3 linked regions of the Homo sapiens genome follow. The protein of the gene in region 3 purifies or fractionates together with the protein of the main gene of each other region. This does not show direct contact. Each region holds a gene or a part of one and is shown on either strand. Other genes may lie near its edges.

What was found.
Region 1: the proteins of BGLAP (region 3) and POC1A purify together in Homo sapiens (affinity purification with mass spectrometry; one large-scale study listed by BioGRID and IntAct). This does not show direct contact.
Region 2: the proteins of BGLAP (region 3) and SEH1L purify together in Homo sapiens (affinity purification with mass spectrometry; one large-scale study listed by BioGRID and IntAct). This does not show direct contact.

The regions. Positions count from the first base shown.
Region 1 is NC_000003.12:52,136,528-52,140,923, forward strand, and holds part of POC1A (POC1 centriolar protein homolog A), read right to left. Parts: intron 1,776-4,396; coding exon 1,642-1,775; intron 1-1,641.
Region 2 is NC_000018.10:12,982,511-12,986,906, forward strand, and holds part of SEH1L (nucleoporin SEH1), read left to right. Parts: intron 1-7; coding exon 8-165; intron 166-1,529; coding exon 1,530-1,680; intron 1,681-2,729; coding exon of another isoform or gene 2,730-2,742; exon of another isoform or gene 2,743-4,351; coding exon 4,352-4,396. UniProt on the Homo sapiens protein: Component of the Nup107-160 subcomplex of the nuclear pore complex (NPC). The Nup107-160 subcomplex is required for the assembly of a functional NPC.
Region 3 is NC_000001.11:156,240,896-156,243,817, forward strand, and holds BGLAP (osteocalcin preproprotein), read left to right. Parts: upstream 1-1,288; 5' UTR 1,289-1,336; coding exon 1,337-1,400; intron 1,401-1,657; coding exon 1,658-1,696; intron 1,697-1,866; coding exon 1,867-1,936; intron 1,937-2,137; coding exon 2,138-2,267; 3' UTR 2,268-2,422; downstream 2,423-2,922. Other genes in the region: PMF1-BGLAP protein, read left to right, coding at 1,658-1,696, 1,867-1,936, 2,138-2,188. UniProt on the Homo sapiens protein: Bone protein that constitutes 1-2% of the total bone protein, and which acts as a negative regulator of bone formation. Functions to limit bone formation without impairing bone resorption or mineralization. It binds strongly to apatite and calcium.

The sequences.
Region 1 (4,396 bases), on a different chromosome or scaffold from region 3:
AACAAACAGACAGATGGCAAAATGAACAGAGGTCGTTGGTTCGTTTCTCTTCTTCTCCTTTCCTCTGGGCATTGTGAGCCTGGTGCCCTGAAGAAGAAATGACCCAGCCCTATCCACACCCCAAACCATCAGCTGTCCCTTGGCCTGGTTCCCATATCTCTAGATTTAATAGCAGACAAGTGACCACACAAGGCAATGCGCCATGGTCCTTGCTTCACTTCCCGGAGAGAACAATGTCAATAGCTTTCGTTTATGTGCCAGATGCGATGCCAGAACACCGGGAATGACATTTTAGATCCCACATTCAAGTGTTTTCAGGCTAAGCGTGAGTTAGCTGTTTAAAGAACACTCACAAAAAGAGGTGATCACTTGATAGGCATCTGTTTCAAACTGTTTCTGAGTTTTGTTTTGTTTTTTTTAGGGGAGCAGGAGCGGTAGCAGCATTCACATGATTTTCAAATGCCCTCCTGGGCATAAGATCCCAAACGGTTACACATGAATCTGTATAACTTGCTTGTCCAGGGGCTTGGCTTGTGAACAGGCTTACACCAGGGCCAGCAGCCACCCCCTCTGGATGTGCTGGCCCAGGGAGAACAGGCCCACTAGTCCTGCACACTGGATATGTCTCTGACAGGGAAGGCAAGGGGTCACAACAAGGCTGGGGGCAGCAAGCAGCCTCCAGACCTTGAGGAAGTAGAAGAAAAGGCCTATGTCCCCATCCCCTAGTCATAGCCAAATGGCCCCCAGGTACCCTAACTCAGATGGCAGTGGAAACCCAAACAACAGCTCAGAAAACACCAGGCTAGACACCTCAGACTTAGCTGATAGTCCAAGACACATAAGCACCCCCAGGGCCTCCCTCAGCATGGCAGGCAGATTAGAGACAGACTTGAATTCAATGGACTCCAGACCTCCCATCTCAAGTGGGCATGGTGACTACGCCCCAACAGGAGACATTCTGACGACCGCTCTGATCAGGAGGGCTCGGACACTACTTCCTAGTGGAAGTACTAGATGTGAAAGGCCCGGACCCAGGCCAGTTCCTGGGGAGAACTGCATGTGGCCTACTTCCCACAGCCGGCCCCCAGGGACCCAGCCCACCCAGGGAGACCAGGGAACCGGCTGCTTTGAAGCTCATTCAGAAAGGAGGCCTTTGCTTCCTTGATTCCATTCCAGGAATTCTCAAACGACAAACATGAAGAAGACTTCCCTTCTTTGTCCCAGCCTCTGCAAGACACCTGAGGTTGCCTCAGTCTCTAGACACACTGATGTCTGCCAGTCCGAGGGCCTCCAGGAAACCCTGATGTCAACTCAGAGCATGGGTTCCAAGGCTCAACTCAACCTCTGGACCAAGGGATGGCTGAGGCCATTAGGGGACAGATTCCATTCAGGCCCCTAAGGGGCGGCTTGCTAACCATGCCCAGATGCAGCCCCCAACCCTTGCCCAATTCAACTCTTATATACCCTTCTCAGCTGCACCAGTCCCAGGCCCAGCAATCTGCCCAGGTCACATGGAAATGCCTCCATCCATCTCCCTGCAGGCTGTGTGGGTGACAAGCCTGTTTCTGCATCTTGCCCACTGCCCAGACAGTGAAGGTACCACCACTCCACACCACTCAGCACCTGGCCGACACCTCTCACCTGATGCCCGTGGAGTGTGTAGAGCAGCCGGCCCTCCATCAGGTCCAGGATCTTCAGGGTTGAGTCACTGGAGGCTGTGATCAGGTAGTTTCCCGACGGGTGGAAAGAGAGCCCGTTCACTGCTGCACTGTGCACTGGGGGAAGGACATCAGTCAGGTGCTGGCTAGGAGGCACAGGGAGCACAGCTGAAGCCCAAGACGGGCAATCAGGGCCAATCGAGGCTCAGCACAGGCCTGATGGGGCTGGGTCAGGATGGTCATTGCTCAGAAGAGCTGTGGGGAACCCAACAAGGATTTCCCAGGAGAGGGGCACAATCGAAGAACAGGAAAAGGCCTGTTCAGAGCCAAGGGCAGGCAGTGGAAGACAGGCGGACAGAAACAGATGCAAAAACCAGAGGCAGCAGACGATTCCTCCATCCTCTCCCACAGCACCAAGCGGTCAAGCTGGAGCAGAATAGAGTACTCAAACATACAAACATAGCCTTTGGTCTGCCCGATATACTCTTTCTTTAAAGAAACCAATGGAAAACAAAACCCTTCAAATGTCAATACAATGCCACTGCCACACAGGAAGGACGTGTGTGGGGGCAGACGAGCAGAAAGCTAAGACACTCTTAGGAAGCAGTCAGGCCTGCATTCGGACCCCAAGCCTCCTGCCTGGGCTCACCCCATGACGTTTTTTGAGAGACAGAGTCTCACTCTGTCGCCCAGACTGGAGTGCAGTGGTGCGACCTCAGCTCACTGCAGCCTCCGTCTCCTGGGTTCAAGAGATTCTCCTGCCTCAGCCTCCTGAGTAGCTGAGACTACAGGTGTGCCACTACGTCCAGCTGATTTTTGTATTTTTAGTAGAGATGGGGTTTCACCATGTTAACCAGGCTGGTCTCAAACTCCTGACCTCAGATGATCCACCTGCCTCGGCCTCTCAAGGTGCTGAGATTACAGCCGTGAGCCACCACATCCATCCTGAGCAAGCATCTTAACCACATTGAGCCTCAGTTTCTCCATCTGTACCATAGCACCTATGTGTAAGAGGTACTGTGCGGATGCTACTAAGTTAAGCACATGAGGTCTTTGCAGAGTGAGCCATCCAATGCCAACATGGATGTTCCTCTCCTTTGCCCCCTGTGTTCCATGCAACTCAAGGTCCTGCCACTTCACCCACTCAACAGCTTGGCCCTGTCCATGACTCTCTTTTCCCTACCATCTCAGGCTAACCCCACCATCTTTTCTGGTGTCCCTCACTCTCCAAGAGCCGGCCACCCCAGCTCTGTCGATTCCCCCAGCCGTAGAACTTTTTTACCCCTTGTTTCCAATGGGCCTGGGAGACTCTTGCCCTTCCCTTTCCCTGACCTTAAAGCTCATTACTGGAAGCTGCCTTCTCCAGGAAGCCTCCCCTGGCCTCCCAATTAGGGCCACCCCCTTCATTTGTCCTTCCAAAGCAGCACAAGCCTCCCATCGGTTCACTCTTCACATTCACATGCAACTATCTGACTCACATCTGGATCTCCCATGAGACCATGAACTCCATCAGGCAGGGGTGGTAAGTCCCTGGCACCGAGCAGGACTCAGAAAGTGGTTGGTGAGCAGGTGCTTAAGCTGGGTATCCAGAAGCCCCAGCAGGTTACACAACTCTCCCTCAAGGTCAAGAGCATGTTCTAGGTGAAGCTGGGGGCACACCTGGGCAGTCTACGTGGGGACAGAGCAACTCCACAGCCAATGCATGGATCAGCTGTATCACAGCCTCCTAGGGTGCCTTCTGAGGAAAACCCCAGTGTCTTTCTTCCCATTACCAGAGGCCCAATGAGGAAAACCAGTGGGGCTAAAATAACCATGACCCTGCCAAGTCAGAATTGCCACCAACATAAAGGCAGATTCAAAACCAACCGTCATCTTAGCACTGAAAGGCTGTAAGAACCACTACTGGGTTGGTAAACACACCCAACACGAAACGGCCCTCAACAAGGCCCACAGGGTGCACGCAGTCCCTCAGATGCCAGCCCAGCTGATGTGCCGATGTGCCGGGGAGTCTGGATACGTGTTCCCAGGCACACTTAGGGGGAAACAGCCAAGGCTTTACGTAACATGATATTTATATCTCAACAACACCCTCCAAGCGCCAGGATCTCCAGGAGGCAGGCTGGAGAGGGACCAGTGGGGTCTCTGAAGCCAGCTCTTGGAGGCAGAATTCAGAGACCCCCCCACCAGAAAGTCTGCACTGGGATGAAGGCCACCTCCACCCCTCCATGAGCAGAAGCTGCCAGAGGAACAGCCGGTGGCAGGAGGGTGCAGAAGGGAGGGCATGCTCAGGGAGCTCTGGGCTTCCCAGCACCATCAAGGTGGCAGGGTCAGTGTATGGATGCCACACCAGGGGCCCCCACCTGGTCAAGCCCATCCAAGGGAAAGAATCTCTCCCAGAAGAAGGGCAACAGAATCTCCACTCCACATAAATGCCAGGAATACCCAAGCCTGGATAGAAACACCTAGAACCATTTACTCCAGAAGAGGGGCTGGCCTGGCATACCAGGCTTTGGGGGATACCCCAGACACCAGGACCCACCCCACCTTTCCCCACTTGCTCTCCTGCCTCACCTACTGGCCGCACCAGCCTCCACTCTCACTCCTCTTGCCTCTGTGGAGGTGGTGGGGAGCGGGTAGTCTATGGAGGCCTCATCGTAAGAACCACCCCTGCATGAGAGTCTACCACGAAGGCTAGGCTGTCCCATGAGGGCATGAGCCTTCTATCATGATGCCTTGAG
Region 2 (4,396 bases), on a different chromosome or scaffold from region 3:
TTAACAGGAAAGAACTGACTTCCTCTGGTGGGCCAACAAAGTTTGAAATCCATATAGTGGCTCAGTTCGATAATCATAATTCTCAGGTCTGGCGAGTGAGTTGGAATATAACAGGAACGGTGCTAGCATCTTCAGGAGATGATGGGTGTGTAAGATTGTGGAAAGGTAAGAGTTCAGTGAAGGGGTAATTGTTGGTTTATATTTCTGCTCTGCAATTTTTACTTAAAATGTAAACTCTGAAATATTTTTTGAAAATGGTCTTTTACAGTTACTTTTAATGTCATATTAATTTATGTTATTTTGAACATCAGTTTACCTAGTTCATAGAAGTTAATGACTGAATTGTTTTTTAAGTTATGTGGAACAGAGCAGTTTTCAAAACTAAAGTAATTACAACAGAATATGCAATATCTCCAATAAAAAGATACCAGTTGTCATATATGTACCTTACATGACTGCTCTACAAACTCAGGCTAGGACTGTAGTGGCTCCTTTTTTATCAAATAAATTGCTTTAGACAATCCATCCTTAATAGGAGAAAATCCAGTATCTTCCCTGCTTCTTCTCTGCAGCTCCCATAAGTTAAGAGCCTTGGGGGCCCTGATTGTAAGTTTCTTCTAAGTGCCAGGCTGAGTGAGAAGGTCTGGTCAGTTGACACTGACTGTGGTCTCTGTAGCTTGGTTCTGCACTTCTCCTTGGATGATTATCCATTAGGCAGAGATGTCTGTGATTTGTGCACCACCATAGAATGGTGTCCCATACTTAGCATTCAGAATTATAGCTATCTTTGTTTATTTGCCATTTAGCAGTTATTGTTTCCCAAAGTGCAGTTTGGGTAAGCTTGAGGGCCTCCCATGTTCAATTTTGGGCTTTGGTAAAACCAGCCCAGACCTTCCTTTCCTCAGTGTAATTTGATTTTAGGGGCTTTGCTGTCCTTTTCTGCCTTTAGGCTTTATTCAGGACCACCTTGCCATGCTCCCCAGCAGGGTGCCTAACTTGATTTTCTTGGGCTCATTGTCTTCAGAGACCAATTTTTCATTCAAACTAATAAGGCCATTTTGGATAAGCCACTGAAGCTCCAAAGGTTTTGTTACCTACATCCATTTCAGAAGACATGATAGGTACCCTTATAACTTATACTTGCATAATTAAGAAGACAACTTCATTACCTTACATACATATGTAAGTGAAATTCATTATAATGAAGACTTTAATATTATAATGAAGATTTTAATATTAACTTCATAATGTGGTAGCTCAGAGAATTGTCTTTGCTAGTATCTGTAAGATGGGTGGTGAAAGCTTTATATTTTTAAAATTAGTGATACTTTGAAAACTTCTAAAAAGTTGTTAAAACTGAGATAATATGTCTTTCATTTAAAAAGTGTCTTTAATGTTTATCCTGAAAGAAATGTAGCTCATAGCCTCTGTCTCGTTTCTTTAATTGTAGTTTAAGGACATGGGTACAGATTTGTGCCCTTAGGCATTGGTATTAATCATGTTAATGTATTTGATTATTTTCCTTTCAGCTAATTATATGGACAATTGGAAGTGTACTGGTATTTTGAAAGGTAATGGGAGCCCAGTCAATGGGAGTTCTCAGCAGGGAACCTCAAATCCTTCCCTAGGTTCAACTATTCCAAGTCTTCAGAATTCATTAAATGGATCTTCTGCTGGCAGGTAGGCTGCTTCATGGGAAAACTGGAAATCATCTTTGTTTTAAATCATTCTGGTAGCCATACTTAAGGTGGATTATTTCATGGATTATAAGATGGAGTGGAAATGTTCACATGTGCTTGTATTAGCATTTAAGAATTCATTTTGTTAGCTATGTATTTGGCTTACTTGGTCATAATATTTGCAGGTAGGTTATGAAGTCATTACATTATATTCTGAAGCTTTAGTGGTCTATTGGTAGAAATGTTTACAGGTTTAAGATTCAACTTTGCTTCCGCAACAGTGAGAGGAAGGTTATCTGGTTTAATGGTGAGAGTTTTAGTCCAAATGAACATTAGTGTTTTTTAGTGCTTGTAGTGTGGTCTTTGCATTAGGTCAAACTGAAATTTTAAATAAAATACATTTCTTAAGGCTTTCTAGAAGAGGGTACATTAAGTTATTTGGCTTTTGTGTTTAAAACTTTAATAGAAATAAGAGGAAATAATAAAACACGAGATTGATTTTTAGAATATTTAGCATATGTTACATTCTTGTATATCATAATAAGGAATATTTGATGTCATCTAGAGTCTGTTTCCATGTTCAAATTTTAAATATGTGAATTTGTAAGATAAAATTATTTTAATATGCCTTTGTGAATAATTTGGAATAGAATTCAGGAAACGTCAAAACACAGCCTAATGAATTGTCCTGTGGTTATATCCTCTTGTTATCCTATATAAAAGAAGAAAATTGTATTTAAAATTTCAACTATTTTTATATTGTTATGTTTTCATAAAGAAGTTCTGCTTTTGATTTTGAGGTTTTAAGTACATGCATCAAAACAATTTCAGGTTACCGTGGAAGATACCAGATTATAAAGATTATTTCATGAAACAAATAATATTAGAGTTGATTTTTTAAAGTCTGGTTTTTGGTCACTGCCTGTACTGCATATTTTCTTTTGTAAATAGCTTCTATTTTTTGATCTGTATTCTTATTGTGCCAATAACCATCTGTGTTAGATCTGTGATGCATTTTCCCTTTTCCATTTGTATTATGTCCTTTAACAGAAAGCACAGCTGAGTACAAGCTAACTGGAGTAACTTTGCTGTTTTGCTGCTTGTTGCATGCACACAGGAATGGAAAGCGAGCTCCTTTTCCCCTTCCCCAGCGCCGTTTGACCTCTCCCAAGATACACCAGCAGCCTGCTTACTACTAAACGCAATCCAAAAGGCCTTTAAAAATACAGTGTATATTTTTTGTACTAGTCAGTTTATTGACACTATTTGAAACTTTTGAAATATAAACGGAGAGGCTTTCTGTTGAGACATTGTCACCAAAACAATTTTTTGAAATGTTCCTGAAACTAATTTGGGTTTAAAGATTAAAAGGGTTGTTACCATTCTTATCTGAGTAGTTGGGAGGAGGGGAATACCACTTTAGTTCATTTGGAAAATATAGACATATTTCTTTTGCTTTCTTAAAACAGCTTAAAATGATGAACTTTTATAATTTTAATTTGAAGATTGAATAAATATTTTTTATAAAGATTGTTTTGAGTGCTGATTTGTTTACTTTTTGTAGATTTGCTTTATCCATGATATTCAGTACAACTCTGTCATTTCTTTGTAATATTTAAAAAATATTAGTAAAGGAGTGAATTAATAAAGTAGTAATAGTAAAATGAAAGGAACTTGACTGTACAGTTTGTAGCCAGGTTAAGCATTTGGTATTGTTTCATTTACAATTTGGGACTAAGATGGAAACACTTTTTTTATAAGTTTTTAATTCATAGTCACTAAAGAGATAAATGTTTCTTATATACATTTGTGTATTTTTATGGTGTTATTTATTCCATGGCTTAGCTTCCTTCAAATCAAAATTTGGACACACACTATTAAGAGAAGCCATTAAAATTTTACTAAAATTGTGCATGTAAATTAATTGTCAGCATTCCATGTCTCAAGATTTTCTTAATTTAGTTCGCTGTTTAAATTAATTCATGTCCTGTAAAGTTCTGACCTTGATAACAAAGCTATAAATATTTAAGTTTGCTAATATGCGTAAGTATTATCGGTAAGTTACAAGATGGAAGAAGAATAACAGTAGGGCACAGTCATTCTGTGAATCCTTTTACTTATCAAAATTTGGTAGCTATTCTAAGGCTTTTGCAGAAAAATAAGTGTTCAATGTTTGTAGTTCTTCAAAAGCATGTTGCAGTAGCCAGCCATACTATGTGTATTCCCAGTATCATGTACGCACTAAAAAAAATGTGTGCTTGCTGCTGCTGTGAGTGAACCATTGCTTAAGATAAAAAACTTAACTAGATCTGTAAATGTACAGAATAGCATCAGATGTTTCTGAGAGATTAGAAAATGTTTTGAATTTATAAAATTAATGTTTTTCTTTGTAACATTTATATATATTTTTTAACATTTTAAGTTTAACAGATTGTATTCCTTTCAAGTTTCTATACTTGCTTAAGCAATCTTGATTTGAGTAAGGGTCTTGATTTGTGCTATTATGTTCTGTTAGTTTTGGCATGAATATACTAAAGCTTTTTTTTTTTTTTCTAGCATGTGTTTTCTCCTCTTTGGTTCTCTTTGTATTTACTACTTTTCTCTTTTTCTTGTGTTTTTTTTTTCCTGTTTTTGTTTTGTTTGGTGTTTTGTTCCTGTCTTCATTGTTTCAGGTATTTCTTTACCCCTCTGGATTCCCCACGGGCTGGATCGAGATG
Region 3 (2,922 bases):
CCTAGTGAGAGCCTTGGTGAGGTCTGCTGGAGGCACACTGGGGACACAGGCAAGCATCAGGTGGTCCCAACTTCCCACCCCCCTCCCATAAACGGCACTTGGCTCAGTCTCCCTCTGCCCACCTTGTCACCATGGAGCTGTGGCATTCAAGCATCCAAATGCCCTGCTTCTGTCAGGCCTGCCCCGTCGGGTGCTTTGTTTACTTGTCAGGTTGGGCAGATGGTCTCAAGCCCTGGTTGGTGGGTGGGTGAGTGAGGAGACAGGTTAGACAGGGGAAGGTCCCAGGACATGTCTTCCCTCTCTGGGCTGACCTGAGGCAGTGGAGGCTCTCAGGTGTGGGATGGGGTTTTCAGGCTGGGATGTTCTGTACCGTAGAGGATAGGCCTTCCTATTACTTATCGGAGCACTACGGGAGGGCAGGTCCCTCCCCAGGGTGTTTAACACTGGAGGCTGCAGGGTCAGGAGGAGAATCGTGGGGCCAGGAGGGCAGAGGCACACTCCATCTTCGTGCTCCTCACAGGCCCTGCCTCCCTGCCTGCTAAGGACACAGGGAAGGGGGTCCCCACCTCAGTGCCTGCCTCCCTTCCCTGTGCCTGTGTACCTGGCAGTCACAGCCACCTGGCGTGTCCCAGAAACCAACCGGCTGACCTCATCTCCTGCCCGGCCCCACCTCCATTGGCTTTGGCTTTTGGCGTTTGTGCTGCCCGACCCTTTCTCCTGTCCGGATGCGCAGGGCAGGGCCTGAGCCGTCGAGCTGCACCCACAGCAGGCTGCCTTTGGTGACTCACCGGGTGAACGGGGGCATTGCGAGGCATCCCCTCCCTGGGTTTGGCTCCTGCCCACGGGGCTGACAGTAGAAATCACAGGCTGTGAGACAGCTGGAGCCCAGCTCTGCTTGAACCTATTTTAGGTCTCTGATCCCCGCTTCCTCTTTAGACTCCCCTAGAGCTCAGCCAGTGCTCAACCTGAGGCTGGGGGTCTCTGAGGAAGAGTGAGTTGGAGCTGAGGGGTCTGGGGCTGTCCCCTGAGAGAGGGGCCAGAGGCAGTGTCAAGAGCCGGGCAGTCTGATTGTGGCTCACCCTCCATCACTCCCAGGGGCCCCTGGCCCAGCAGCCGCAGCTCCCAACCACAATATCCTTTGGGGTTTGGCCTACGGAGCTGGGGCGGATGACCCCCAAATAGCCCTGGCAGATTCCCCCTAGACCCGCCCGCACCATGGTCAGGCATGCCCCTCCTCATCGCTGGGCACAGCCCAGAGGGTATAAACAGTGCTGGAGGCTGGCGGGGCAGGCCAGCTGAGTCCTGAGCAGCAGCCCAGCGCAGCCACCGAGACACCATGAGAGCCCTCACACTCCTCGCCCTATTGGCCCTGGCCGCACTTTGCATCGCTGGCCAGGCAGGTGAGTGCCCCCACCTCCCCTCAGGCCGCATTGCAGTGGGGGCTGAGAGGAGGAAGCACCATGGCCCACCTCTTCTCACCCCTTTGGCTGGCAGTCCCTTTGCAGTCTAACCACCTTGTTGCAGGCTCAATCCATTTGCCCCAGCTCTGCCCTTGCAGAGGGAGAGGAGGGAAGAGCAAGCTGCCCGAGACGCAGGGGAAGGAGGATGAGGGCCCTGGGGATGAGCTGGGGTGAACCAGGCTCCCTTTCCTTTGCAGGTGCGAAGCCCAGCGGTGCAGAGTCCAGCAAAGGTGCAGGTATGAGGATGGACCTGATGGGTTCCTGGACCCTCCCCTCTCACCCTGGTCCCTCAGTCTCATTCCCCCACTCCTGCCACCTCCTGTCTGGCCATCAGGAAGGCCAGCCTGCTCCCCACCTGATCCTCCCAAACCCAGAGCCACCTGATGCCTGCCCCTCTGCTCCACAGCCTTTGTGTCCAAGCAGGAGGGCAGCGAGGTAGTGAAGAGACCCAGGCGCTACCTGTATCAATGGCTGGGGTGAGAGAAAAGGCAGAGCTGGGCCAAGGCCCTGCCTCTCCGGGATGGTCTGTGGGGGAGCTGCAGCAGGGAGTGGCCTCTCTGGGTTGTGGTGGGGGTACAGGCAGCCTGCCCTGGTGGGCACCCTGGAGCCCCATGTGTAGGGAGAGGAGGGATGGGCATTTTGCACGGGGGCTGATGCCACCACGTCGGGTGTCTCAGAGCCCCAGTCCCCTACCCGGATCCCCTGGAGCCCAGGAGGGAGGTGTGTGAGCTCAATCCGGACTGTGACGAGTTGGCTGACCACATCGGCTTTCAGGAGGCCTATCGGCGCTTCTACGGCCCGGTCTAGGGTGTCGCTCTGCTGGCCTGGCCGGCAACCCCAGTTCTGCTCCTCTCCAGGCACCCTTCTTTCCTCTTCCCCTTGCCCTTGCCCTGACCTCCCAGCCCTATGGATGTGGGGTCCCCATCATCCCAGCTGCTCCCAAATAAACTCCAGAAGAGGAATCTGTGGGCCTGTGAGTCTGTCCAGTTTATGGAGTGTGGGAGGGAGGTGTCAGGAGGATGGGGGTGAGGAGGTTTTACCTTCTTCAGTTCTAGAAAGTGCTTTCCAAAGTTTTATTTTTTTATTTGTACCTGCCTTGTTCCAGAAAACGTTGAAGGTGGCTTCCCAAAGTCTAACTAGGGATACCCCCTCTAGCCTAGGACCCTCCTCCCCACACCTCAATCCACCAAACCATCCATAATGCACCCAGATAGGCCCACCCCCAAAAGCCTGGACACCTTGAGCACACAGTTATGACCAGGACAGACTCATCTCTATAGGCAAATAGCTGCTGGCAAACTGGCATTACCTGGTTTGTGGGGATGGGGGGGCAAGTGTGTGGCCTCTCGGCCTGGTTAGCAAGAAGCATTCAGGGTAGGCCTAGGTTAGTCGTGTTAGTTCTTCCCTGTGCTGAGCAGAGACTTCCAGAAGCACCAGAAACGGAGCCAGATGAAAGGACCCC